Regions from separate parts of the Homo sapiens genome. Here regions 2, 3, 4 and 5 are each linked to region 1. Evidence: fine-mapped expression QTL. A gene starts in region 1. Each other region holds a variant in brackets. All regions are shown on one strand. Distances are between the middles of the regions.

What was found. PIP is the estimated chance that this variant, and not a neighbour inherited with it, causes the effect.
Region 2: its variant is fine-mapped to the expression of PAK1 in whole blood (TOPMed, PIP above 0.99). The same link has a PIP of 0.9 or more in monocytes.
Region 3: its variant is fine-mapped to the expression of PAK1 in whole blood (INTERVAL, PIP above 0.99).
Region 4: its variant is fine-mapped to the expression of PAK1 in cerebellar hemisphere (GTEx, PIP above 0.99). The same link has a PIP of 0.9 or more in cerebellum.
Region 5: its variant is fine-mapped to the expression of PAK1 in monocytes (TOPMed, PIP 0.98).

What each region holds. Positions count from the first base shown.
Region 1 is chr11:77,471,848-77,476,847 of GRCh38, reverse strand. PAK1 (p21 (RAC1) activated kinase 1) reads left to right here and starts at 2,754. Exons shown (of 15, transcript NM_002576.5): 1 at 2,754-3,296. RefSeq lists silencers at 2,520-2,879, 3,110-3,159, 3,180-3,489 and an enhancer at 2,730-3,646.
Region 2 is chr11:77,406,383-77,411,516 of GRCh38, reverse strand. All of the region lies in intron 1 of PAK1 (p21 (RAC1) activated kinase 1), which reads left to right. Among named protein-coding and RNA genes, the nearest start is that of PAK1, 65 kb to the left of the region's middle. The variant T/C (reference allele first, on the strand shown) is at 3,138.
Region 3 is chr11:77,446,675-77,451,808 of GRCh38, reverse strand. All of the region lies in intron 1 of PAK1 (p21 (RAC1) activated kinase 1), which reads left to right. Among named protein-coding and RNA genes, the nearest start is that of PAK1, 25 kb to the left of the region's middle. RefSeq lists enhancers at 2,315-2,744, 2,324-3,094. The variant T/C (reference allele first, on the strand shown) is at 2,573.
Region 4 is chr11:77,514,947-77,520,080 of GRCh38, reverse strand. It overlaps a transcript of PAK1 not described here. Among named protein-coding and RNA genes, the nearest start is that of PAK1, 43 kb to the right of the region's middle. The variant G/A (reference allele first, on the strand shown) is at 2,254.
Region 5 is chr11:77,499,599-77,504,732 of GRCh38, reverse strand. It overlaps a transcript of PAK1 not described here. Among named protein-coding and RNA genes, the nearest start is that of PAK1, 28 kb to the right of the region's middle. The variant A/C (reference allele first, on the strand shown) is at 2,335.

The DNA.
Region 1 (5,000 bases):
CACGCCCAGCTAATTTTGTATTTTTAGTAGAGATGGGGTTTCACCATGTTGGCCAGGCTGCTCTTGAACTCCTGACCTCAGGTGATACACCCGCCTCGGCCTCCCAAAGTGCTGGGATTACAGATGTGAGCCACTGTGCCTGGCCAACAATACACATTTATTATTTCACAGTTCTGTAGTTCAGAAGTCCTAAATGGATGTCAGTGGGCTAAAATTAAGGTATCATCAGGATACCATCTCTTCCTTTCCAGAGGCTCCAAGGGAGGATCCATTTTCTTGCCTTTTCCATTTTCCAGTCTGCTCCCAAAAGCTGGAGAGTCCCTTTCCCCAAATCCTCAATTTACTCACATCTGCAGAGTCCTTTTGTCATGGAAGGTAACATATTCATAGTTCCCAGGGATTGGAATGTGAACATTCCATTGGATGAGCCATTATTCTGCCTAGTGCAGAGATCACGAAAAGACAATCCAGATTAGAGTCAATTTACTGGGTTAGGATCCTGGGTTAAGTTACTTAACCCCTCTGTGCCTCAGTTCCCGCATCAATAAGATGGGTGAGGATAACAACAGTATCTACCGTAGAGGGTAGAGGTTTAAAGACAGTGTTTGTAAAGTGCTCAGAACAGTACCTGGCACATAGAAAGAACAATAGGAACATTTATTAAATACATTTTTTTTGAGACAGAGTTTTGCTCTTGTCACCCAGGCTGGAGTGTGGTGGTGCAATCACAGCTTCCTACAACCACCGCCTCCTGGGTTTAAGCAATTCTCCTGCCTCAGCCTCCTGAGTAGCTGGGATTACAGGTGCCTGCCACTACGCCCGGCTAATTTTTGTATTTTAGTAGAGATGGGGTTTCGCCATATTGGCCAGGCTGGTCTCAAACTTCTGACCTCAGGTGATCTGGCTGCCTTGGCCTCCCAAGTGCTGGGATTACAGGCGTGAGCCACCGCGCCTGGCCTTATTAAATATATTTTAACAACATATTGATACTTAGGTATATGTCAAGCACTGTTTTAGGTGCTGAGGATATGGAAAGGAATATGACTTGGAACTCAAGAAATTAGATACACAAATGCAGTTACTTCCATAAAAGGCATAGAAATACTATAGAATTACAGTTTTGTTAAGGCTTAGGGAAACTTTAGAAATATTAGTCAAATGAATATGAATATGAATATGAATGACATTTGAGCTCAGCTTTGTACAATGAATAGGTGTTGGCCAGTCAGCTAAGTAGGGAAGAGCTTGAAGACATGAAGAAATGTGTATTCAAATAACGTTAATATTTCAGTGTGCTTGGAGCAAAAAATAAATGATGTGAGACAAAGCTAGAAAGGCTAGTGTAAGCAGTCAGGTAATAAAGTGCCAAGTTCAGGAGTTTGAACTTTATCCTGAAAGCAATAAAATCCTTTCGGTGTTTAAACGGGAGGACATCATCAGATTTGTGCTTTTATAAGGCTACTCAGGTAACTAGTGAGAAAAATAGATTGAGTTTGAAGAGACTAAAGGTTGCTCCAGTTGTTCAGGTGGTGGTAGTAGAAGACGACACAGGCAAGGACTTGAAAAATATTTAGGAGAAGCTACAAGACTTGGTGTCCAACTTGATATGGATGTTGAGAGAGGAAGAACGGGGAGCTATTAGTATGTCTAGGTTCCTGGCTTAGGGGATTGTTGAATGGGTGGCCCATTCATTGAGAACGGAAAGGAACGTAAGAAGCAATTTTGGGGGGGAAATAATAATAATAGCCAACATTCTAAAGGGCTTGTTACTATTACCATGGTAAAACTGAGGCTTAGGAAGACCTAGTTAAGGTACTACTTATTATTACAGAAAAATTACGGCTTAGAAATGTCAAGGTCCTATCACTAATATTTGAATAGCTAGGATTTCAAGCAAGGCAACCTGATTCCGGACTCTTAGCCTTTCTAATGCTGTCTCAGTTTCGCACATGTTGAATCTGAGGTACGAAGAGTATGCAGGTAATGCTGCTCGGGAGGTATTGGGAAATACACAATCTGAGCTCAGGAGAAAGAAAGCTTTGGGTCGAAAGTACCCTCCACGGTAGGGGAAAAAACGTGAAAGGAAGCCCATTCTTTTCGTATGTCAGTTCACATTAGTTCAAACATCTCCGTTATAATTTCTTTGTCTTCCTCCCACCCCTGCCCCCTCTCCCACAGAAAGAAAACATAATACATGTCTGGCTGTGAGATCACACGACATCGGATAGTTTTCAAATTCAGCCCTTGACAACGAGCTCATAGATGCGGTGGTGCTTTGTTAACCTGAAAAGGACCCTCAGCGCCGGAAGTTAGCCGTCTTTCTCCATCCTGACTACTACAGTAGCCCTCCCAGAAATCGTCCCAAAATTGTCTGATAGAAAGGCTGCACGGAAACAACCCGCCACGGACAGCGGACCGAGAACAGTGACGCGACGCGATGACGTCACGCAGCAAGCGGGTGATTCCCCAGCCTCTGGCGTCACGCGCCGATGACGTAATCCCAGGCGTTCGCCCTCATGCGGGCCAGGGTTTGGCCTCGCTCCCACGGGTCGGTCAGGCCCTCCCCGCCCCCTCTCACCTGCGGGAGGCGGGGCGGGCACGGCTCCACCGGAGCCGCAGCCGCCGCCGCCGCGCCGGGGAGGGGGAGTGGGGGAGGGGGAGGGGGAGAAGGGGAAAGGGCAGAGGGGAGGAGGAGGCGGGAGGAGGAGGAGTAGGGGAGCCAGTGAACTAGGCGGTCAGGCCTGCCGGGCGGCGTACAATAGCGCGGCTGTGGGCGGGGGAGGCTGCCCTCCCGCGGCTGCAGCCGGAGCCGAAGGTGGTGGCTGCACAGTAGACGCCCCCTCACGGCTTCCCCCACACGCTCCCGCCCCCTCGCTCGCCCATCGCGCTTCCCTCACAGGCTCTGCAGTCCTCCCCCACAGACGCCTTCCCCCTTGGACTCTCATTCCCTTTTCCACGGAGCCCCGCGCTTTCGTGAGCCCCCTCGAGGAACCTGGTCTCCGCATCCAGTTACCACCTCCTGCCTCAGAGGCCATCTGAGCCCTTCGCACCTCGCCCCTCAGTCCCCCCTTCCCCCCCCGCCCGCGTCGCCTCGCTCCCTCCCGCCCCCCCATCATCCCTTCCCTCGCAGTTCCCCTGTCCTGAGGGGAGCCCCGCCACGGGCAGCGCGGCGGCGGCGGCAGGAGGGAGAAAGTGAAGCGGTAGCTCGCGCACACTCGCGCCCTCACTCCCGGCTAGGCGGCACCCACCGCCGGGAGGAGGAGGAGGAGCCGAGAGGAGCTGAGCGAGCGCGGAAGGTGAGAGCGGGCCTACCGCCCAGTACCCCTCGCGTCCCGGGCTGCCAGGGCTGGGGCGCGGGGGTGGGGACGGGTGGAGTGGGGGTCTGGGCCCATTTATTTCGCGTTGCGGGGCCGGGCGCCTGGGCGGGAGGAGGCGCCAGGTAAGGTGAGGCGGGCGGCGCCCCGCGAGGCCCGCTCCCGTCGGGCCAACAAAGGCCCCCTGTGCGCGTACCGGCGGGGTCGCGGGTCTCAGACGCCGGGCGATTCGAGAGACCTGGGAGAGGGAAGGGGCGGGGCGGGGCCAGGCCAGGCTGGAGCCGGGAGGCCACACGAGTACCGGTCCGGGACCGAGTCCGTCCCGAACTTCGCAGTCCTGCGGCGCTCACCCTGTCCCGCTACGAGGAGGCACAGCAAAGCGGCGCCCAGTTCCTTCTGCATGGAATAAATGACCCCTTCCAGGCTTGGACAGTCACCTTTAGGGTTCTACTCCCTGAAAAATAAGGGCTGGTAGGACTTGACTTACGCAGCCCCTCCCCCACCCCGGAATATTCTGTAACTTGGGAAGTGAAAAACAACCGGGGAAGGAGATTTATAGTTATTTTATGTTCATTATTACGTTTGAAAAGACATGATTGTTGTAGCCTTCGCTATCCTATTTCAGCAGTACACATTACTGGGAGTGTTTTGGAAGAATACTTGAGAAGTAGTGGGTGTGGCGTTGTGAGCAACGTCCTTGGTTTTTAAACCCCTTGGATAATTGTTCTACTGTTACAAAAACTGTGAACAGTGAAGGGAAGGGTTAGTTCCGTGGTTACTAATAAAAATTCAGATTCATTAGTCTTGACTTTAAGAATTGTTCCTGAGAACAATCTTTAATTTTGCCTCCTACATTTTTGGGTTCTCTTTCAACTCTGTCAGGAGAAAGTAGGAATTATCAGTACAGATACCTCATCTCTCTTACCCTGTGGCTTCATCTACTTCTTGTGTGACCTTGAGCAGGTCACTTCCAGCCTTAAAAGCTCCAGAAGTTTGGTTTTATGCCCCAAAACGGGCAAGTAGCAAGCACCGGACTCAGCTTTCAAGAGTCCACTGAAGAATTCCCACACTGTGAAGTCTTTGCTGGCCTCCATCCTGTCTCTCCTCTTACAGACAGAGCTGATTTCTTCCCATTGGCCCGGTGGGATTTCTACCACAGCACTTACAACATTTTGGTTCCTATTTGGAAAATTCTAAGTCAGGTGCATATAAAAACTCCCCACCTCAACTAGAAACTATGCCTTTCAAAAAGGGTTTTGGGAACATTGACCCTGAAAACTTCCCATACTTTCCCTGAAGCTTATCCATACTCTTTAACTACATGAGCTCATGGGTCTACCTTGGTAAATTTGCTTATTCAGTCAATTCGTTTATCCAACATTACTGGAGTTCGGAGAGCTACTATGTTTCAGGCCTCTTGCTAAGGCTATGGGGATTCAGTCTATTAAGATATTCCCTGTCTTCAAAGAGCTCAAAGTCTAATGGGTGAGGTAGACAAGTAAACAATGAAGGTCTGCCCTAATCTCTGGGGGACTCCAGTTGTACAGGTAGTAGTGTGCAATAATTGAGGCTGCTGGACCTGTTTTACAAGTCTTCTCTTGGCCAAAGTGAGTCCTGCAGGGAAGGTGACCTGCCTCATCCATAACAGGGCATTTGGTAAAAAGCTTGTTCAGTTCAATTCAATAT
Region 2 (5,134 bases), 65 kb after region 1:
GCTCAGCCTCAGAAGCTCTGCTCCTTTGCAAGCGCCCTTCTGCTTGGTGGCCAACGTGGTGCTTTCCTCTGCCTTGGCTTAGTCGCTGGCCTGCTGGGACTGTGGGGGCTTTTCTGTGTTAAGAGGTTGAGTGAACTGGGAGGGAGGAGACCTGGGGGGACTGGTCCTATTCAGACATCCTCTGTGGCTTGAGTTGCCATATCTGTGCAGTGAAGGACTTGACATTGTTTGTTACTCTGGCTTTTCCAGACTGTCAAACCATCTTTTGGAGAGGTGAGCTGGTTTAAAGTGCTAAAATGGGCTGCAGAGATGTCCCCCTCAACACTGTAGAAGAGAGGAGAACTTGGGAAGTAGACCTTGGTATCCTGTCTTCCAGCCAGCCTTTTGAATGGCATCTTGGTGGTTCTTCAGGGACAAAGCAGAGACTGAGAATGCTGATGCTTATTTTAGTGTGATGCGTAGGTGTGTTAGGTGTAGGGAGGTAGGGTTGGGAAGTAGAAGGTCAAGGTATGTTAATGATTCTAAACTGGCCAGTTTTTCTGTCCTTAGGTATAAAGTTGCGTTAAACTAGACTCTCTTCTCTGGAGCCCCTTCCTTATTCTGCTAAGTTAATGACAGACCTGGCTGTGGTAATATCTTAATCACTATAATTCTTTCCTTCTTTATTACCTGGCACCAAGAAGCTCATGTCAGGCCCGATAATAACCTACTTTGATTATTTTGGACCTCTTTCCTCCCCCTAGTTTTTTCATGACTCTACGTCTTCCTCTCCTCACTTTTCTTTCTATTTCCTCCTCCTGATCATTTTTCCTGCCCCCTGCCTACCTTTTCTCCCGCCGTCCCCTTCACCCTTCCTCCTCCCCTCATGCTTCCCCTTTTGTATTTCTCCCCCTGTGTAGCCAGTCTTTCCTTCCCTCTCTTGGATCCTCCCCCTCTTGATTAGGCTTTCTTCTCTTTTCTAAAATTTTTGGTTAAGCTTTCTTATTATTAGTAGGTTACTGGTTTGTAGAGACCTTTTCCTGTGTTTATGAGGTCCAAACATTGTTTTCTACCTAACTCACTTGCATCTAGCTTTTACCTCCAAATTCTATCTTCCCCAGGACCATTCTCTCTCTTTACTGCCTCTGTGCCTTGCCTTGGGCCTGCCAACAAGCACTCCCTCTTCCTGCATTTGTTTCCCATCTTTGCTGGTGGTGGTGGGGCAGCAAGCAGGTAGGCAGTAGGGAATAAGCAAGATGGGAAGTGGGGGGCCTGAGTGGGAGGAGAGCAAGAATGTCAAGTAGTGCTGGGCAGAGGCTCAAGTTCCCTTTAGTGAGATGAGTGACTGGGAGGACCAGAAACTCTGGCAGCTGTGAGATAGTGCTGATCTGGAGGAAAGGAGGTAGCCCAGGAAAGAAGAGGGAGGATAGCAGGGATGGGTTGGAGGGACAGGAGGAGGAGGAGGCCTGGAGGAGAAGACAGTGCTCTTTTGAAGAAGAGGGTGGCCTGGACAAGATAGTGGTTATTTGTGTGTAGAAAGAGAAAGATTATAGTCTGGGAAAGGGGACTATATAGGTTAATTATCTTCCCCTTTGATGACTGGCTTTTTGAACTGATTTCTACTCAGCAAATTTTTTTTTAGTTAAAAATTTTGAAAGAATTTACCATGTTTATCATGTTTAAGTGTACAGTTCAGTTTCAGTAAGTACATTTATATCTTTTTTTCCCCCTTCATCCTCCTCACTCCCTTTCCTGGCCTTTGGTAACCACCAGTCTACTCTGTATCATCATGAGATCTACTTTTTTTACCTCCTACATATGAGTGAGAACATGTGATATTTGTCTTCCTGTACCTGGCTTTTTTTTTACCTGAAAAAATGGTATCCAGTGTCATCCATGTTGCTGCAAATGACAGGATTTTATTCTTTTTTATGGCTGAATAATATTCCGTTGTGTGTATATATACATATATACACAAATATATATTGTGTATATACACATTTTCATTTTGGCTATTATGAATAGTGCTACAGGATTCATGGGAGTGTGATATCTTTCATATATTGATTTGCTTTCTTTTAGATATATACTCAGTAATGGAATTGCTGAATCATGATAGTTCTATGTTTAGTTTCTGAGGAACCTCCATGCTATTCTCCATAGTGGCTCTACTAATTTACATTTTCACCAACAGCATATGAGGGTTCCTCTTTCTCCCCATCCTTGCCAGCATCTGTTATTGCCTGTCTTTTTCTTTTTCTTTTCTTGAGACAGGGTCTTGCTCTGTTGCCCAGGCTGGAGTGCAATGGTACGATCATGGCCTACTGCAGCTTCAACCTCCTAGGCTCAAGCAGTCTCCTACCTCAACCTCTGAAGTAGTTGGGACTGCAGGCACATGTCAGCATGCCTGGCTAATAAAAAAAAAATTTTTTTTTTTTAGAAGTGTGGTCTCCTTATGTTGCCCAGAGTGGTTGTGAACTCCTGGGCTCAAGTGATCTGCCTGCCTTGCCCTCCCAAAGTGTTGGGATTACAGGCATGAGCCATCGTGCCCAGCCTTTGCCTGTCTTTTTGATACAAGCCATTTTAACTGGAGTGAGATGATATCACATTATGGTTTTGATTTGTATTTCTCTGATGTTAGTGATGTTGAGCATTTTTTTCATGTACCTGTTGGTTATTTGTATCTCTTGTTACGAAAAATGTCCGTTCAGATCTTTGCCAGTTTTTAAATTGGATTACTTGTTTTTTTTGCTATTAAGTTGTTTGAGCGCCTTATATATTCTCGTTATTAATCCTTTGTCAGATGGATAGCTTACAAATATTTTCTCCCATTTTGTGGGTTGTCTCCACTTCGTTAATCAACGGAATTTTTGTGAGCACTGTCCTTAAAGTGGGGGAGTTAGAGGGAAAGCAGAGATGAGAACGACAAGATTACTGTTTTATTGGCACTCACTGTCAGAATGTGGAGTGTGTGTGTGTGTGTGTGTGTGTGTGTGTGTGTGTGTATTTCTCCATAGTGGCTCTACTAATTTACATTTTTGTCAACAACATGAGGGTTCCTCTTTCTCCCCATCCTTGCCAGCATCTATTATTGCCTGTCTTTTTCTTTTTCTTTTCTTGAGACAGGATCTTGCTGTTTTGCTCAGGCTAGAGTGCAA[T/C]GGTACGTACGATCGTGTGTATGTGTGTGTATGTATATATGTGTGTGTGTATATATGTATGTACAATATTCACAGAGCTTTGAATATTGCATCCATCCATTATCAAATATTTCTGAACCATCTACTCTATGCTAATTATGGTACTAGGTTGGTGGCGATACAAAAATTGAAACTGGCCTCAGTTGTTGCTCTCAAATGCAGATCAAGGAATGTGGACGCTCATGTGGTAAGTATTGTAGAAGGAAGCACAAGGGGCTGTGATAATGCAGAAGAGGGCACTTTTGATTTAGCAAGACAGTGGCAGAGCTAGGACCTAAACTTAAGTCTTCTCTGAAGGTGATATCTATTCTCTTATACCCTGTTATCTCCTGAGTTTGTGTATACATACAGTGTACAAAGAGTTTTCCTATATCCTCTTTTCTGCCTACTTTTGGGGCTAGACTCTAGGTACTGCTGACATGAAAAAAAGAACAATCCCATGTGGCAGGTCACTGTGCCATAGCCAAACAAACACTCATTACCTTGGAAGGGAAACAGACTTCGTCCCTGTTAACTTCTGGCTCGAGGCCACTTGGGTGACTATATGCTGAGCTCCCTCTCTGAGTCATTTGATCTCTTCCTTCCTTTCCTCCCTGTTCCATTTACTTAAATTCAATTTCTGGCGGGTTGCAGAGTCCAGAGACCAGATGCAGCTAGGCTAGGCATTTTCGCTTCCACTGGCCTCTATAGAATAGGGATTTAACACCTCATAGGGTTGGTGAGGATCAGATGAAATAATGAATGCGTGAAAATGCTTTGTAAAGTGCTATATAGATATCATTGTGGTTGTTCCCGAGTGCATTTTCAAGCCGTGAAAAATTGCTCAGATGCTATAGCCTGAAAGCCTAGGGTTGCCACTGACAGGCAAGAATAGGCACTCAGTATAGACACCAAGATTTACTAGACCCTTTCTCTGCCCTCGAAAAACTCACAGACTAATAGGAGAGGATTGAACCTCAATCCTCCGTGAGTAAAGGAAAAGGAGTGGGGTAGATAGGGCTTTAGGACTGGTAATTTAGTTCCATGGTCAAACAAAAACCACGAAGTATGTGCTTTATTTAAGGTCGAACAGATAGTAGGTGGCAATTATAAAAGATACTTTTAGTGACTTCTTATGATGTAACACAAAAAGGGGAAGGGGGACTTAAAAGTAGATTGACTTCAGTTCAAATCCTGGTTCTACCACTTACTGTTACCTGATTTTTAATCTTTTTAAGCTTCATGTATAAAAATGGAAGATATTCATACCTACTTTGAAGGGTTATTATAAAGCTTAAAAATAATCATATAAAAAAATAATAATAATTATATAGTAGGCACGTAATAGCTATACTTATTCTACAAGTCCCCTGACTCCTAGGCTGTTAAGGGCCCCTCTTCTGGATTCATGCAGCACCTATGTCTTTCCTCTCACCAATCAATAGTGCCAGTTACCATATTGTATTGTTATTGTGGTTAATGTATCTGCCTTTCCCATTAGTCTGTGAGATTTTTGAGGGCAGGGACAGGGTCTAGTAAATCTTGGTGTTGATACTGGGTGTCTACTCTTTTTTTTCCTTTGAAATCGTATCTCTGTCTGTTGCCCAGCCTGGAGTGTAGTGGAGCAATCTCAGCTCACTCACTGCAGTCTTGACCTTTTGGCTCAAGCAATCCTCCCACCTCAGCCTCTTGAGTAGCTGGGACTACCGGTGCCTGCCACCACACCTGGCTAGCTTTTGTATTTTTTGTAGAGACAGGGTTTCACCACATTGCCCAGGCAGATCTCAAACTCCTGAGCTCTAGTGATCCACCCACCTCAGCCTCCCCAAAGTGCTGGGATTACAGGCATGAGCCACTGCACCTGGCTTTGAGTGCTTACTCTTGCCAAGTCCTATTTAGTTGCTGAGTATACTTTGGTAAGCACAGCAGACTTACAAAAGCATATCGTTGCTCCTTTACAAAGCTTATCACTTATTGAG
Region 3 (5,134 bases), 25 kb after region 1:
GACCAAAATGGTGAAACCCCGTCTCTACTAAAAATACAAAAAATTAGCCGGGCGTGGTGGTGGCGCCTGTAGTCCCAGCTACTCGGGAGGCTGAGGCAGGAGAATGGCATGAACCCAGGAGGCGGAGCTTGCAGTGAGCAGAAATCGTGCCACTGCACTCCAGCCTGGGCGACAGAGCAAGACGCCGTCTCAAAAAAAAAACAAAAAAAAACAAAAGACATTAACGAGAGAAAAGCAAGCAAATATATTTAATACAAGTTTTACATGACATAGGAGCCTTCATAAGGAAATGAGGATGCAAAGAAACAGGCAAACTTGTGTATTTTTATGTTTAGGTTTGATGGAAGAAGTGGGTAGTCTTGGAGAAATATGATTGGACAAAGGCGGTATGATGTAATGGTAATAGGATCAGGGTTGGAGGGAACTTAGCAAGGCTGGTTTGTTCAGATTTTTCTGTATGTCCCTGTGTCTTCAGAGAAAAATGAGGCTTTCCTCTGGGAATAAGGAGGGTACCTCTTGAATGAGGATCTGATTACCTGCTTCAGGGGAGAAGGGTGAGGGGAAGCTGAGAGTGAGAATACTTTCTTGCGTCTGCTGTTTTCTCATATGCTAAGATGTCATATTTTGGGGTAGCATGTCTTGAACCCCATTATAAAGAATCAAAGTGGTGGCTGGAACATAATAGGTAGTCAGTAAATGTTTGAGATATTCTCAGAAGACTTAGTTCTGTCTTCTCAAATGGTTTCCCTAAAGTCTTAAAATAAATACATCAGAACTTCTTGTTCTGTGGTTTTAAAGTGTTTTGTGGAGTTTGATTCCAGAGGCTATAGGTGGTGTAAGGTATGAGCTTTGCTGTTAGTCAGATTTCCATTCTAAACTCCTGTGGCACATAGGCAAGCTCTTCTGCCCAGAGAAGGGCCTCTAGAGATGGCAGGTTTTGTGGTAAATGGATTGAAAAAGAGGAGGAGGAAACTTGGTAACTGGGAAACTTGGGTCACTTCTGCAGGCAGTTGCAGCCCACTGAATAGCAGTATGTCAGGACCTTAGTGGTGAAACCATTTTTCATTGTGATCTCTGTCTCTGTTATTCTAAGTGTCTCAAAAACTGGAACCATGTCTAAGTCCTCTGCTGTTTCAACACCTGACCCACAGTAGATATGCCAATGTATTTTTTTGAAATAATATCTATCTAAAGTGGAGAACTTCTGTGGCCCATAGAGTTCCATAAATCCCTAATGGCTCCTAATTCTTCACCCCAGCTTCACCTTGCAGAGATATTTGTATTTAACAAGGATTTTCTAGTCTTTAATCATAAGGATTTGCAGGATTTCAGGTCTTGGGTTTTTTAGGCCTTGCTCTGCTGCCTACTTCCCTTTGCAAATATGGTCAGGCCAGACAGCTATTTCCTTCATCCCTAGTCATTGTGTGGGACCTGCCAGGTTCTTTCGGGTTTTTAATGCTGGGGTGGTATTTGTGGCTTTAATGCACAAGAGTTGGGGAGCATGAAACCCACATGATCAGGTAAACATCATTCTCTCAGTGGGTCCAGGGTTATGAGAAAACATAATGCTGGGATGTTCTTTCTTCCCAACTCTACCCCTAGAATTGATACTTTTATGTAAGCCATTAATTCAGTAAATACCTTCTGAGCATATATACTGTGGATCAGACATTCTGCTGGGTGCTTTAAATAATTATCTTTCCAAATACTCACAAGTTAATACTTTGAGTTAGACTGAGGGTATTGCCTTCAATTTCGCAGAAAAGGAGTCTGAAGTTTAGATGAAAGGAAATGACTTGCCTTAGCTAGTAAAGGGCAGACCCAGGATTTGAAACCAAGTCTTCATGACTAAAAGATAATCATTGATTGTCATGCTTGTCTATGCTTTCAGAATGGGAAGCTCCTTGAAGATGCATGTCTGATTGAATTTTTGCTCCCTGTTCTCAGCACAGGGGCTAAAACAGAATTTTTAAAAAATTGAATATGTAATACATTGGAAAGTCCTAGATAGAATAGGGGAATTGGGGTGAGGGTATTGAGAAACTGTTTCCTAGTCCACATTATTTCCCTGGAGAAGCTCCAGTCCTTAGGGTGATTTTTTTTTTTTTTTTTTTTTTACCTATAGGATTGAAAAGGAAAGCATTATTCATTCCAGCAACCCATAAGGAAAACTAACACAAACATTGTAATGCTTTAAAGATCTTCGTGTCTCATTGGGAAAATAACACCTCCTTCACTGTGTTATTTTGAGGAAAAGTGAGATGATAAAAGAGTCTGCCTGAACTCTAACGTTTTATGTTAAGTTGTTTTCATGCCTGGCTTTACCTGCCCTATCCCCTTTCTGGGCTTCAGTTTCTCTATGTGTACAGTGAGATGTTGAACTGAATGGTCTTGCTGCTCTTCCTTCCTTCATTAACATGAGAACAGATAGTTGATGCCTCTGATGTTCATGTTGTTCCCATTGCCCTTTTCTCTTTAAGCGCACTGCCTAGTTTCCTTTAAAGTCGTTGCCTTCTTTAGTTTTCTTTTTAAGCTGTTTCTGTGTGGGCTAGTGTTCCCTTTTGAGGTTGAA[T/C]TGAATTGTGTAAGGCCTCAGGAAGTGGTGGAAGCACCTTCCTCAAACCTGGTTGCACCAAAGGCCCATCAAGTCAAGTCTTGTCCCCAAAGAGGAAGAGAAAGCCTGGGGTTCTTAGCCCAGGCTAAGATTGAAGGAGTTTCTCTTTCGAGCTTTCTGGGTTAATTTCAAAACGTACAGGAGGGACATTTTCTTTTAAATTTCAAACACTCACCCTGTATATCATTAATATTCCTTAGCCATTTTTGTATAATATCATTTTTTAATTTCTATCCACCTTCTTAAATCTGTCCCTTGGGTCAGACAAAATGAATTCAACCTTTCCTCCACATGACAATTCTTTATAATCACAATAGTGATTTTATTACTGTTCTTCTCCAGCTAAATAGTTTCAAGAGTTTCTCAAATGACTACCTCTTTTTGCCTATTATACCACTTTGCTTTCCACAAAAAACTTCCCATGGGTAGTCCCTTCCTCATGCTAATCTTATTTCTGGTTCTGTATAACCTATCACTTCTTTGTAAGTTTTCACACTATTGCTGAAATAAGCCAAACATTCTTTCTCATGTTCCCTTAACTTGGGTCTCATAGCATTTTGTTTGTTTAACATGTTTTCCTTTGCTTGCTGTCCTTACACTCAACAACCTTCAAGACCAAGTTCAAATATCTGTCTCTGATGCCTTCTCTGACATTGTCCTCCTGTGCCAGGCAGAATTAGTATTTCTTCCTTCAGTGTTTATGTGTTACTCTGTTGTAATGGCTATGACATCATTTCTTATATTATATTTGTACTGTGTTATATTTTGTGTTGTACTGTATTGTAATTAATGTAATTTGTATATTCTACCTCTCCTTAAACACTTCTTCAAAACAACCCTTCCAAGGTTAGAAATACGTAGCAAATACCAGGTGGTCAATAAAAGAGGAAAGTACCACGCATTGAGTAACTTACTGCTGTGCAAGTTGCCTAATAAATATTCCCAATCCTCACAACAGGTCTCTGACATATTTTTCCATTTTTTCCCATATGAGTCTCCCATTTTACATATGAGGTAATTGAGGTCCAGAGAGATTAAATGATTAATTTCTGATCTCACAGCTGGTAACTCAGACAGAATTGGGATTCAAACCCAAGCTTGCTGATTCCAAAGCTTGAGTTGTGTTTGGAACTATTCTTCTGACTCCTAATTCAGTATTCTTTCTGTGCACATCAAAAACACACAAATTGAGTATGTAGATGTGTTTAATGCAGTGATGGACTAGAGTTCAAATGGGAGTGTGGTGGAATGAGGAGCAAATAGCTGTGGTACTCTCATAATTGTGTATTAAGAAATAGCCCTAGAGTTATTAATGCCTTAATTGCAACTGTAGGCAATTCTGTAATTTGGCATTTTAAAATGAATCTATTTTGGCTGGGCATGGTGGCTCACGCCTGTAATCCCAGCACTTTGGGAGGCTGAGGTGGGCGGATCACCTGAGATCAGGAGTTTGAGACCAGTCCGGCCAACATGATGAAACCCCCGTCTCTACTAAAAATACAAAAATTAGCTGGGCGTGGTGGTGGGCGCCTGTAATCCCAGCTACTTGGGAGGCTGAGGCAGGAGAATCGCTTGAACCCGGGAGGTGGAGGTTGCAGTGAGCTGAGATCGTGCCACTGCACTCCAGCCTGAGCGCGAGACTTCCCCTGAAAAAAAAAAAAAGAATCTGTTTCATCTTGTTAGCAGATATAACAACACCTACCTTTGGACATGTTCTGTTCTAAAAAGGGATGAAAAGCTGCTTCTCTCACACTACCACGGGCAAGATAGATGAGCTCAGCTTTGACTTGAAACAGTGTTAGTGCTTATGAAATCTTTCGCCTCCAAGTTTTGTCCTATTTTTGTTAGGTGCTGGTAACCTACCTTTCAGAGCTATAGAATCAGACAATGGGAATAATGGGATTCTTATCCCAACTATTTGAACAGGTTCTCACCAGGGAGAGCCCAAACACAAAGGACCTTTTTGGAGTTGGTAAAGAAGGCCAAAATGTAGACCCTGGGAAACACCTCTGCCTCCTTGTTTTGTGGCATGGGCTGCTGATTCATCCTATATTCTTTTAAGTTGGCTAATAGCGGATGTGTTATAGAAAGGTAACAAAAATAGGATCTAGCTCTTCTTATCTCTGTGTGGTTTTGGGTAAATGATTTATACTTCCTATGTCTTTATGTGTTTTAATCCAGTGATTCTTTCCAGGTGAAGGGATCCTGTTGTACAGGGACCACACATCTTTGCTGCTCAGGGACTATGCAAGGCTCTAGATTACAGCTTCTTTTGCTCTCCTTTTTTGTTTTTTTTTTTTCTTTTTGTCACAGCTCCCCTATTCACTATTATTCTAAACAGTTTTTGAAATCTCTTACCGTCTGATGTCCCCTCACCCATTCTCTTTATTGTTGAGGTTCATACCTCTTTTATAGCTTTACCATCATTTTAGAGTGATTTTGGGAGGGAACATAAGTAAATGTGTTTTCAATCTGCCAATTTTAACTAGAAACAAACTTCAAAGGAAGTTAAACCAATAGAAA
Region 4 (5,134 bases), 43 kb before region 1:
AACCTGCGCAGGGCTTTGCCTGACCATGCCCACATGTGCACTGGGGGAATGGGGTGGAGCCACGGGCGGAGGGGGGGGCCACAGGCCAGGGGAGGAGCCTGGCTTCCAATTCCTGTGTGGTGGCCTGGGATTCAGTCCCTGAGGTGAGAGGCCTGTTAGCAGGACTCCATCTTGCTTTGTTGAGTCTTTTTTCTTTTTCTCCCTTTTTGCCCAATGAAATCCTGCTCTATTTACCCTTCAGTGTGTCCATGTGTCTAAATTTTCCTGGCTTGTGTCTAGAACCTGGTATTAGCTGAACTAAGGAGCAAAATTCTGCAACAGTATTATCCTGCCTTCCCAATGCAATCTACATTTCCAGGTGACCAACTAGACCTAACTGATAAGGAAAAGTTCTTTACAGACGAATCCCAGCTAAAAAATGTGGTAGGAATGATAGAATTAGGAAAAAAAAACCAGCATTTTGCAAAGATCAATAAGGGATGAAAGAATTAGATTAAAAGCTTCTGGAGAACTTTACAATAGAGAGATCCGGCTGACACCCCTGGAACCACTGATCAGTGTTAACTACACTCAGAGTGGGACAGCCAGACAGTATGTACCTCTTGAGATGCCCCCTTTATGGGGAGAAAAAAGAAAAGGAACCCAAATCTAATAAGGCCTTTGGGACTAATTTTCTAGTTTACATGAAATACAGGGGATACAGACTCAAGTTTAAGTGACACTACTTATAAATAAATGGATAAATCCAGAATGTGGGATATTTTATAGAACTATTGAACTAGTTTAATCAACAAATCAATAGCATGAAAAAAAGGGTGGGGTAGAGCTGGGAGATACTGTTGTAGATTTTAAGACTCAAAAGACATAACCTTCAAATGCAATGTAACGACCTTGTTCAGATTCTGATTCTAATGAACTAACCATAAAAAATACATGTATTTAAACATCAGGAAAGTATAAAAATTATCTAAGAATTCGATGATACCAAAGAGGTGTTACTTTTGTTAGGTGTGTTGGTAGCAGTGTGGTTATGTAGAAAATATTTGTGTATGCAGTATCAAGGGAGAGATAACATGAGGTCTGAGACTTGCTTTGAAATACTCAAATAGAAAAAGGAGAGGGATACATGAAGCAAATATGGCACAATTCTAATAATTGTTGAATCTAAGTGATGGGCATTTAAACAATACGATTCTAATTTTGTTTATTTTAAACTGTTTGTATTAAAAAAGTTAGTGTGGAGACAGGCAAAATAGAATCTTCTGGATGACAATTCAGCCTGGTCCATGTATATCAATGGAACAAAATAAATGGGAAAAGTTACTGCAAATCAGACTAACTTGCTCATCTTTAGCTGTCAGCTGCCACGATGCCACAAAAGCACATCTGGTGTCAGTGATGACACTTCAGATGATGAGATCCAGGGTGGAAGGAAGGGCTGCTGGTGGGTGTAATGATTTTCTCTCTCACACATCTCATTTTTGTTAACACCTGAGGTGGCACCTCAGCAAATCCAAGCAGAGTGCCGAGTGGTTTGCAATCTTCTTTTGCATAAAAAACATACTAATTACACTCTCTTTGCTGATTCACTGGGGAATAATTTTTAGCCCTGTAAGTAGATACAACTTTTGTTTTTAAGATGAAGAATTACAAAAACCAGAGATGGCAAACACAGCCAACTGTGTGACCACTCTCCTCTCTAGAACCTGGGGCAAGTAGACTTCGTTAATTGATCACAGCTTTCTTTCCCATTAGATTTGACTTCTCACCATGCTTCTCCAGGTGACCCCATATTCATAATATCTATTTGTCCTTCCTTCATAAAAAGTATTCAAATTAATTTATAGATTAAATAACTTGCTAAGCCATTTTTTTCATTTCACAGCAGAACAAACAAGAAGAAAAATACCTTGAATACCAAGGAATTTAGACTAGATTGAATTTAAGAATAACTTTATGTGGAGATTATTGAAATCTGGAATAATTACTTAGAAAGATTAAGGTGTTTTTCTTAAAAGCCCTGTTAAAAGTGGGCAGAGTTTTATTGTCTGGAATAATCTAGAGAGGCCACACAGCAGGAGGTGAGTGGCAGGCGAGCGAAGCTTCATCTGTATTTATAGCCCCTCCCCATTGCTCTCATTACTGCCTGAACTCTGCCTCCTCTCAGATGGCATTAGGTTCTTTTAGGAGCGTGAACCCTATTGTGAAGTGGGCAAGGAAGGGATCTAGGTTGTGTGCTCCTTATGAGAATCT[G/A]ATGCCTGATGATCTGTCACTGTCTCTCATCACCCTCAGATAGGACTGTCTAGTTGCAAGAAAACAAGCTCAGGGCTCCCACTGATTATGCATTATGGTGAGTTGTATAATTATTTCATTACATATTACAATGTAATAATAATAGAAATAAAGCACACAATAAATATAATGCACTTGTACATTATATTTCAGGTTTCATCCTGAAACCATCCCTCCCCACATACACACACTGGTCTGTGGAAACATCGTCTTCCATGAAACCGGTCCCTGGTGCCAAAAAGGTTGGGGACTGCTGACCTAGGACCAATGGGCTTGACAACCATTCTTTGGCATATGTCAAGCCATCTGGCATTTTTGCCTGCTCAGCATCCCTTTCCCTTCATCCCTATAATAGAATGTTATTTCCTTTGGGGAAATCTGTGTGTTTGCATAGGGCTGCCCCTTCCTTTTTACACAGTGGGGCAGACCTAGCTAATCAGATTACATCATTTCTTTGACCACAGAAGTTAATAGTAGGATGGGTGCATGACTCAAACTGGGCACATTAAAATTCTCTCCTGGCCAGATATTTTGGAAGAGTCTCTTTTTCCACTGAGTGCTAAAGTGGCTGGCTCTGAGGCTTGGGTTGCTGGTGGCTATAATGCCCTATGTGTGGAGAGAGCCAACAAAACAGAAATGCTAGAGACAATTCCTTAAATTATTTGAGCCCTGGGTTCTAATTATGCCTGAAGGAAGATTCATCCCTGGGTTATTTAAATATGAGCAGCAATAAATTGCCTTATTTTTTCTTTAGTTAGTTTATTTATTTTTATTTTATTTTTTGAGACAGGGTCTCACTCTGTCACCAACTCTAGACTGCGGTGACATGATCATGACTCACTGCAGCCTTGAACTCCTGAGCTCCAGCAATCCTCCCGTCTCAGCCTCCCAATTAACTGGGACTACAGGAATGTGCTACCGCATCCAGCTTTTTTTTTTTTTTTTTTTTTGAGAGATGGGGTCTCACTATGTTGCCCAGGCTGGTCTTGAATTCCTGAGCTCAGCTGATCCCCTCACCTCAGCCTCTCAAGGGCTAAGGTTACAGGCATGAACCACCATGCCTAGACTTTGTAGTTAGTTTAAATTGGTTAGTTTAAATTAGGGAAAGTCTTGACTAGCATGGCATGTGAGATGCTTCATTTATTCAATTAACATTTATTAATCTGCTCTAGTCACTTGACCACCCTGGAGATACAGAAACAAAAGAGTCCTTATCTCACAGTTCACAGTTAAAGAGACAGTTATAATACAGTAATTATATAATACCTGACACATTACTGCTTAATATGTTCTAAGTACTATTCTAAACATTTTACATATACTAACTTATTTAACTCTGATAACAACCCTTTGAGATAGGTTGTGTTACTTTTTCTATTTTAGAGAAGGAAAATGAAGCACAGAGAGCTTTAAAAAGTTGTCCAAGTTTACTCAGTTCAGAAGTAGAAGATCTGGAATTCAAACCCAGGTAGCCTGGCTTTTAGTCACGACATTGTATAGCTTCATTACACCTAAGGTTCAATGCTGGAGTTATACTGAAAAATAATCAATAATAATGGCTACCATACATTGAATGCACACTGTGTGTCCAGTCCTAAACTAGGTGAATTTCTGCCTTAACACATTAAGTCTTTTCAAGAATTTAATGCAGCAAAGATTATTCTTTGTGTAGTTGAGGAAACTGAGGCTTAGAGAGGTTAAGTGACTTGACCAAATTGCACAGCTAAAAACAAATGGCACAGACTGAATTTGGATCCAGTCATGTCTGCCTCTAAAGCCCTTCTTCTTTCCATCATATTACCTTGGAGGGCCTTACATTCCAACTTTTCCACTAGACGTGCAGCATTTCTAGGATGCTTATGATTGGCTGCCAGCAACCGAGAAATGAAGTCAACTTGGAGAATTTTCTAACATCAGAAAGTATGGCATATTTTGCTTGCAGCAGTGCTCTTGGAATTGGTGTATACCTTGCAACCTGATACTCCTGAACATATATTTGCTGTAGTTGAGGAGAGAGTAAGACACTTGTTGTAAACATCCCCTTTGGGAGTAAAAAAAGGATGTTATTTATTTATTTTTATGGCAGTCATTCAAATGTTGAAGGAGGAGACACTACTTTTGTGCTGCTTCCTGCCTTCAGGCCAGACCTGCAAATAAGGCCTTTGGATAAGGAATGAGTCAGGTATCCTGGGGACAAAGTGCACATTTCATAAGAAATCCGAGAATGAGAAGGTAGTATTTCGGTGGGAAGGTTTTCTATGATCCATAGAAGGCATTGTTGTCTAATAAAACCATCCCGTAACACAGGAGAAGCTGGTAATGTTCCTCCATGTAACCAAATCATGCACGGGGTTTACTGATGCTCCACATTCCTTCAGGGAAAACATATCAGCTAAGATACACCTGTATGCTTCCTCATCCAAACATTTATTAAGTGCTTACAAATCTCTTTATCTAGATTAACTCATTAAAGCCACATAACACCGCCATGACACAAATGAGAAAAATGAGGCATAAAGGACTTGACTCAGCAGCAATTGAATTATCTGCTTACCAGGAGTCAGTGACGTTTGCTAACCAGTTTTTGCCAGGCACACATGGTGTAATTAAATTAAATGTACAATGGAAACCTATGAAATATGAGTGTAAAAAGAAGTTGAGCTATTATTCCTATGAAAGCTAAGTTGGATGTTTTGGAAAGACTTTTCTCTAAAAAAATTATTGCTATTCAATTAGGTAATGTCATGCTCTTTTCCTCCTCTTTGCCTGTTGCTGCTAATTAGAAGGACTTTTCTCATATTTTCCTCCTTCAAATGTATCCTCCAGGATCCAGCTCAACTAT
Region 5 (5,134 bases), 28 kb before region 1:
CAATCCTTAAGTATGGTATAAGAACACAAGAGATCCCCAAAACCTCTTTCAGGTGTCCATAAAGTTAAACCCACTTTCATAATAATACTAAGGTATTATTTGTCTTTTTCAGTCTCATTCTCACACAAGTATATGCAGTATGAAAAGCTCATTGATATGATTTCAGATTCCACATTGCAACAACCTTTGAGAAACTCCCACTCGTCAAGTTTTAATGTGGTGTCAAAGAAGAATATTCAAACTTATCAGAAAAAAGCAATTAGAATACTCCTGCCTTTTCTAGCCACACATAAGATTTTTTTCATTATACTTCAACCCAAAGAACACACTGAAACAGATTGAATGTAGAAGCAAATATAAGAATCCAGCTGTGTTCCATTAATCTAGGTAGTAAAGAGATTACAAAAATATAAGGAATGCTACTCCTTTCACTATTTTTTTTTTTTTGCTTTAGAAAGTGTAGTTATTTTTCATGGAAATGTGCTATTTATATTAACAAACTAATAATTTATTAAGGTTGTTTTAAAATAAATTAATAGGGGCCGGGTGCAGTGGCTCACGCCTATAATCCCAGCACTTTGAAAGGCTGAGGCGGGCAGATCACTTGAGGTCAGGAGTTTGAGACCAGCCTGGCCAACATGGTAAAACCGCTGTCTCTATTAAAAATACAAAAATTAACTGAGTGTGGTGGTGGGTGACTATAATCCCCGCTACTTGGGAGGCTGAGGCAGGAGAATTTCTTGAACATGGGAGGCAGAGACTGCAATGAGTTGAGATCGCGCCACTGCACTCCAGCCTGGGCTGGAGAGAGAGGAGACTCCATCTCAAAACAAAAAAAAGATTCATAAATACTTTATTTTATTACTAATTAATTTATTTTTGAGACAAGGTCTTGCTCTGTTGCCTAGACTGGAGTTGAGTGGTGCGATCATGGCTCACTGCAACCTCGACTTTCTGGGCTCAAGTGTTCCTCCAGAGTAGCTGGGACCACAGGCATGTGCCACCACACCCAGAAAATTTTTAAACTTTTTTTATAGAGGTGGAATCTCATTTTGTTGGCCAGGTTGGTCTTGAACTCCAGGGCTTAAGCAATCCTCCCATCTTGGCCTCCCAAAGTGTTGGAATTACAGGCATGAGCTACCATGCCTGACCTAATACTTTATAACTTCCAATTTCAATTTCTAATATGGCTAATATTGATAGAGATAACCCACATAAACAACATTCTTTGGGGTTCTCAATAATTTTTAAAAGTGTAAAAAGGTCCTGAGACCAAACAGTTTGAGAACTGCTGTCTTGCCTTGCACTTGAACCGCCACCAACCCATCCAGGGCAATTGGCCTCAGCATATGCTTTAATGCTGCATAGGATGGGGAGGCCACCACCTCCTGGAGCAGCTGGTTTTATCTTTGCACTACTCTGTTTGCTAAGAAGTTCTGGCAGTGAGTCAAAGATCTGTCTCTCGGAGGCTCCCACTGATTGGCCTTAGACCCACTCCTTGGTTTTACACATTGCAGTTTGGAACCCTCTTCCAGGTCTGGAAGATAGTCATCGATTGCCCTTTGTGGTGGCCCCAGAGGGAATCAGCCCTTCCTTCTGGTGACTAAAGTACAGATGCATTTTTCAGAGTCAGCCAGTGATTTGCAGGAGGCATTGCCAAGCCAGATAACTCACAGCTGCTTTCCCAGGAACCCGAAGATCATCTCCAACCTCACATCAAATTTGAGAAATTCATGTTGTTATTGTTTTCCTCCATAAGTTAATTTTTTTCCATTATAAATCACACGTGCTTATTAAGGAAAATAAAGAAAAGTAAAAAGAAAAGAGGCTTGAAAAGAAAATTTGGTCACAATTAGCCCTGACTTTCTTGTCTTGGCATCTCTCCTTTTTGGGCTTGCCCTGAATGCCATTCTTTTCATACAGTCCTTACAAGCAGATATGTGCACCATGCCAGCTTGCGAGGTCTGTGGGGTTGACAGAGTGCCCACTGCTTGGTGGAGTGGGACAGCTGCTGGCGAGTTCATAGCTCCTTGAGGGCAGCTGAGGCAGGGCACTCAGAGGGAACAGGAAGCTCCTGCGAAGAAGCCTGATGCTTCTGCCATCTGAAGACACTTCAGGGCAGGTCTCTTCCAGCTATGTGGGGTTAGAGAAGACTGACACTACTACAGTGGTGTCTGGTAAATTTCTTTCTGCATTTTTGCAGGGAGGGGTAAAATAAGAAGTTCCTCTGGGAATTCTACTTCTGAGAATCTATCCTAAGGAAATGATGAAAGATTTAGACACATTATGTGTCTATCATTATTCATAAAACTTGGAAATAAAACTAAATGTTTT[A/C]ACAATAAACGTTTAGTTTTAAAACTGTGTGATTGTATATTCTGTGCTGGTTGAAAATAATAGACATTTATGAAGTCTTTAATGACATGGGAAAATTTCCAACATAGTATGTTAGTTGCTCTTGTATATGGCTGACATATATGTAGTTCCTGGATAAATATTTGTTGATCAAAAACTGAAAAATTAAGAAAACTTTAAAAAGAAAAAAACACATACACATGCACATACACGCACACAAAAGCAGGATACAAAACTGTATTTACAGTATAGTCTCAATTATATAAATATTTTTGTGACAAGTTGGGAATAAAAAGGTCATCTTAATCTTTGGCGCCAATATATGTCATAAGGAGAAAACTATCTTGGTGAAAACATTTAAATGCCCAGCAGGCACAGGTGTCAGCAGATTCCCAGCTCAGAGAAGGGGAAGCTGCTTTGCATGAAGCAAAGAGGAATTTGGTTTATTGCTTCTGAAAAGGAAGCAGAAGGAGGAAGATATTGGTCAGGGTGCTCACAATTGCAAATGACAAAAATTTAACTCTATCTAGCTAGACCAAAGAAAACCCAGGTATCCAGTTAGAAACGTTTGGATTCAGGGACTGGAGCTTTCCCATCCATATTTGAGCTCTCTCTTCATGTCTTGACTCTTGTTTTTCTTTATCTTGATTCATTCTCAAGCAGGCCTTCACATGGGGTGGCAAAGACACCAGGAGCAATACTGATCTTCCTATCAGAGACCCTGGGGGCAAGAGTCTTTCACTCACCAAACATTCCCACAAGCCTGTCCCTGAGCATCAGTGTGACCAGAGAGGTGGGATGCACTGACTGGTCACTTGTATGGATCACTGGAACAGGGTGGGATCAGCCCTGCTCAAGCCATTTGAGAGAAGGGGTAAGGGTGGTTCCCCAAGGGAAAGCTGTTGCTTATTACCCGAGAAGAGGGGTCGAATTCAGTGAATGCTCAGCAGGCACAGAGAAAAGATGCCACCACAGGGAGTAGAGAGAAGAGAGAAGGATGAAGAAGAGAGGAGTCAGTGGAGAGACTGAGTCCGGGTGGAGTGAAGGGCCGGGGAAGCTCCCCTCTGGCAGATAGTGGTCCTTCCATTTTGAATTGTTTGCTTTGCTATGGATGTGAAACTCTCCTGGATTTCCCCTTCATCCTCCACATTGCCAGCAAATTCTACTAACTTCAAAACTGCTCTATGGGAGTGGGTTGTTTTTTGTTTTTTGTTTTTTGTTTTTTTTTTTGAGACGGAGTCTCGCTCTGTCACCCAGGCTGGAGTGCAGTGGTGGGATCTTAGCTCACTGCAACCTCCGCCTCCTGGGTTCAAGCGATTCTCCTGCCTCAGCCTTCCAAGTAGCTGGGACTACAGGCGCCTGCCACCACGCCCGGCTAATTACCCGGGATTGGGTTTTTGGTGGAAATTGGAGGGACTAAGTTTTGAATGTGGATCTGCACACTGCAGAACAGAGGACCATGTGGGGAGCCAGGAGCCCAGAGGCTAGCTGGCTGTGGTAAGAGAAGTCTGTTGGGAAAGAACTGAATTTTTTTTTTGAAACAGTGTCTCACTCTGTCTCCTAGACTGGAGTGCAGTGGTGTGAACACAGCACATTGCTGCCTCAACCTCCCAAGCTCAAGCAATCCTCCTGCCTCAGCCTCCTGAATAGCTGGGACCACAGGCATGCATCATCACACCCAGCTAATTTTTTTGTGTGTGTGGAGACAAGTCTCAGTGTGTTGCCCAGGCTGATCCTGAACTCTGGGGCTCAAATGATCCTCCTGCCTCGGCTTCCCAAAGTGCTGAGATTACAGGTGTGAGCCACTGAACCCAGCCAGAACGGAAATCTTGAGGAGGGCTTTGGATTTCCACAAGACGTGGAATTGGAGGGAGGAATCCAGTTAATTATGTTTCGACTTTTTTTTCTTTTTTTGAGGTGGAGTCTCACTCTGTTGCCCAGGCTGGGGTGCAGTGGCACAATCTCGGCTCACTGCAACCTTCGCTGCCTGGGTTCCAGCAATTCTCCTGCCTCAGCCTCCTGAGTAGCTGGGACTGCAGGCATGCACCACCATGCCTGGCTAATTTTTGTATTTTTAGTAGAGACGGGATTTCACCATGTTAACCAGGCTGGTCTCGAACTCCTGACCTTGTGATCCGCCCACCTCGGCCTCCCAAAGTGCTGGGATTACAGGCGTGAGCCACCGCACCCGGTTTATATTTTGATCTTTAAGGGCAGGAGGGCTCTCAGTTGAATCTGAGTTATGTATATTCATCTTTGCTATACAAATTCTGTGTTTGTGAATTTTCATTTTTATGAACTGATTATAACAAAATTTTCCAAGGGAGCAAACTTCTTCCACTCACTTATGGTCAGGGCTTGCTTATCTCAGATGCGTGTGTTCAGAGGTCTTCCAGCCACTTTCAGAGCCAGGTGTAGAAGCAGAGATGGAAGTGTTCGCTGATGCTGGATGGTGGATTTATCAGGTGAGTGCTAGAGAAGGTCAAAAGGGTGAGACATTTAGCCAGGCTGTATCCATTCTGTTCTGTAGAAGCCAAAATGCCGGAAAGTCTACTGCTCTGTGTGTGTATGTGTGTGTGTGTGTGCAGTGTCAGCACAAACCAACTCAGTGCTTAGGGAGCAATATGGATCCAGGGCCCACATCAACTCTAAATTAACATTCCCTGACTGTTGGGACAGACAGGCATGTAAACAACTAATTAAGACAAAAAGTGTAATAAAGGTATAACGAAAGTATCACTGGAATACTTAAGAGGCAGTACCTACTTCCTCTAAAGTTGAG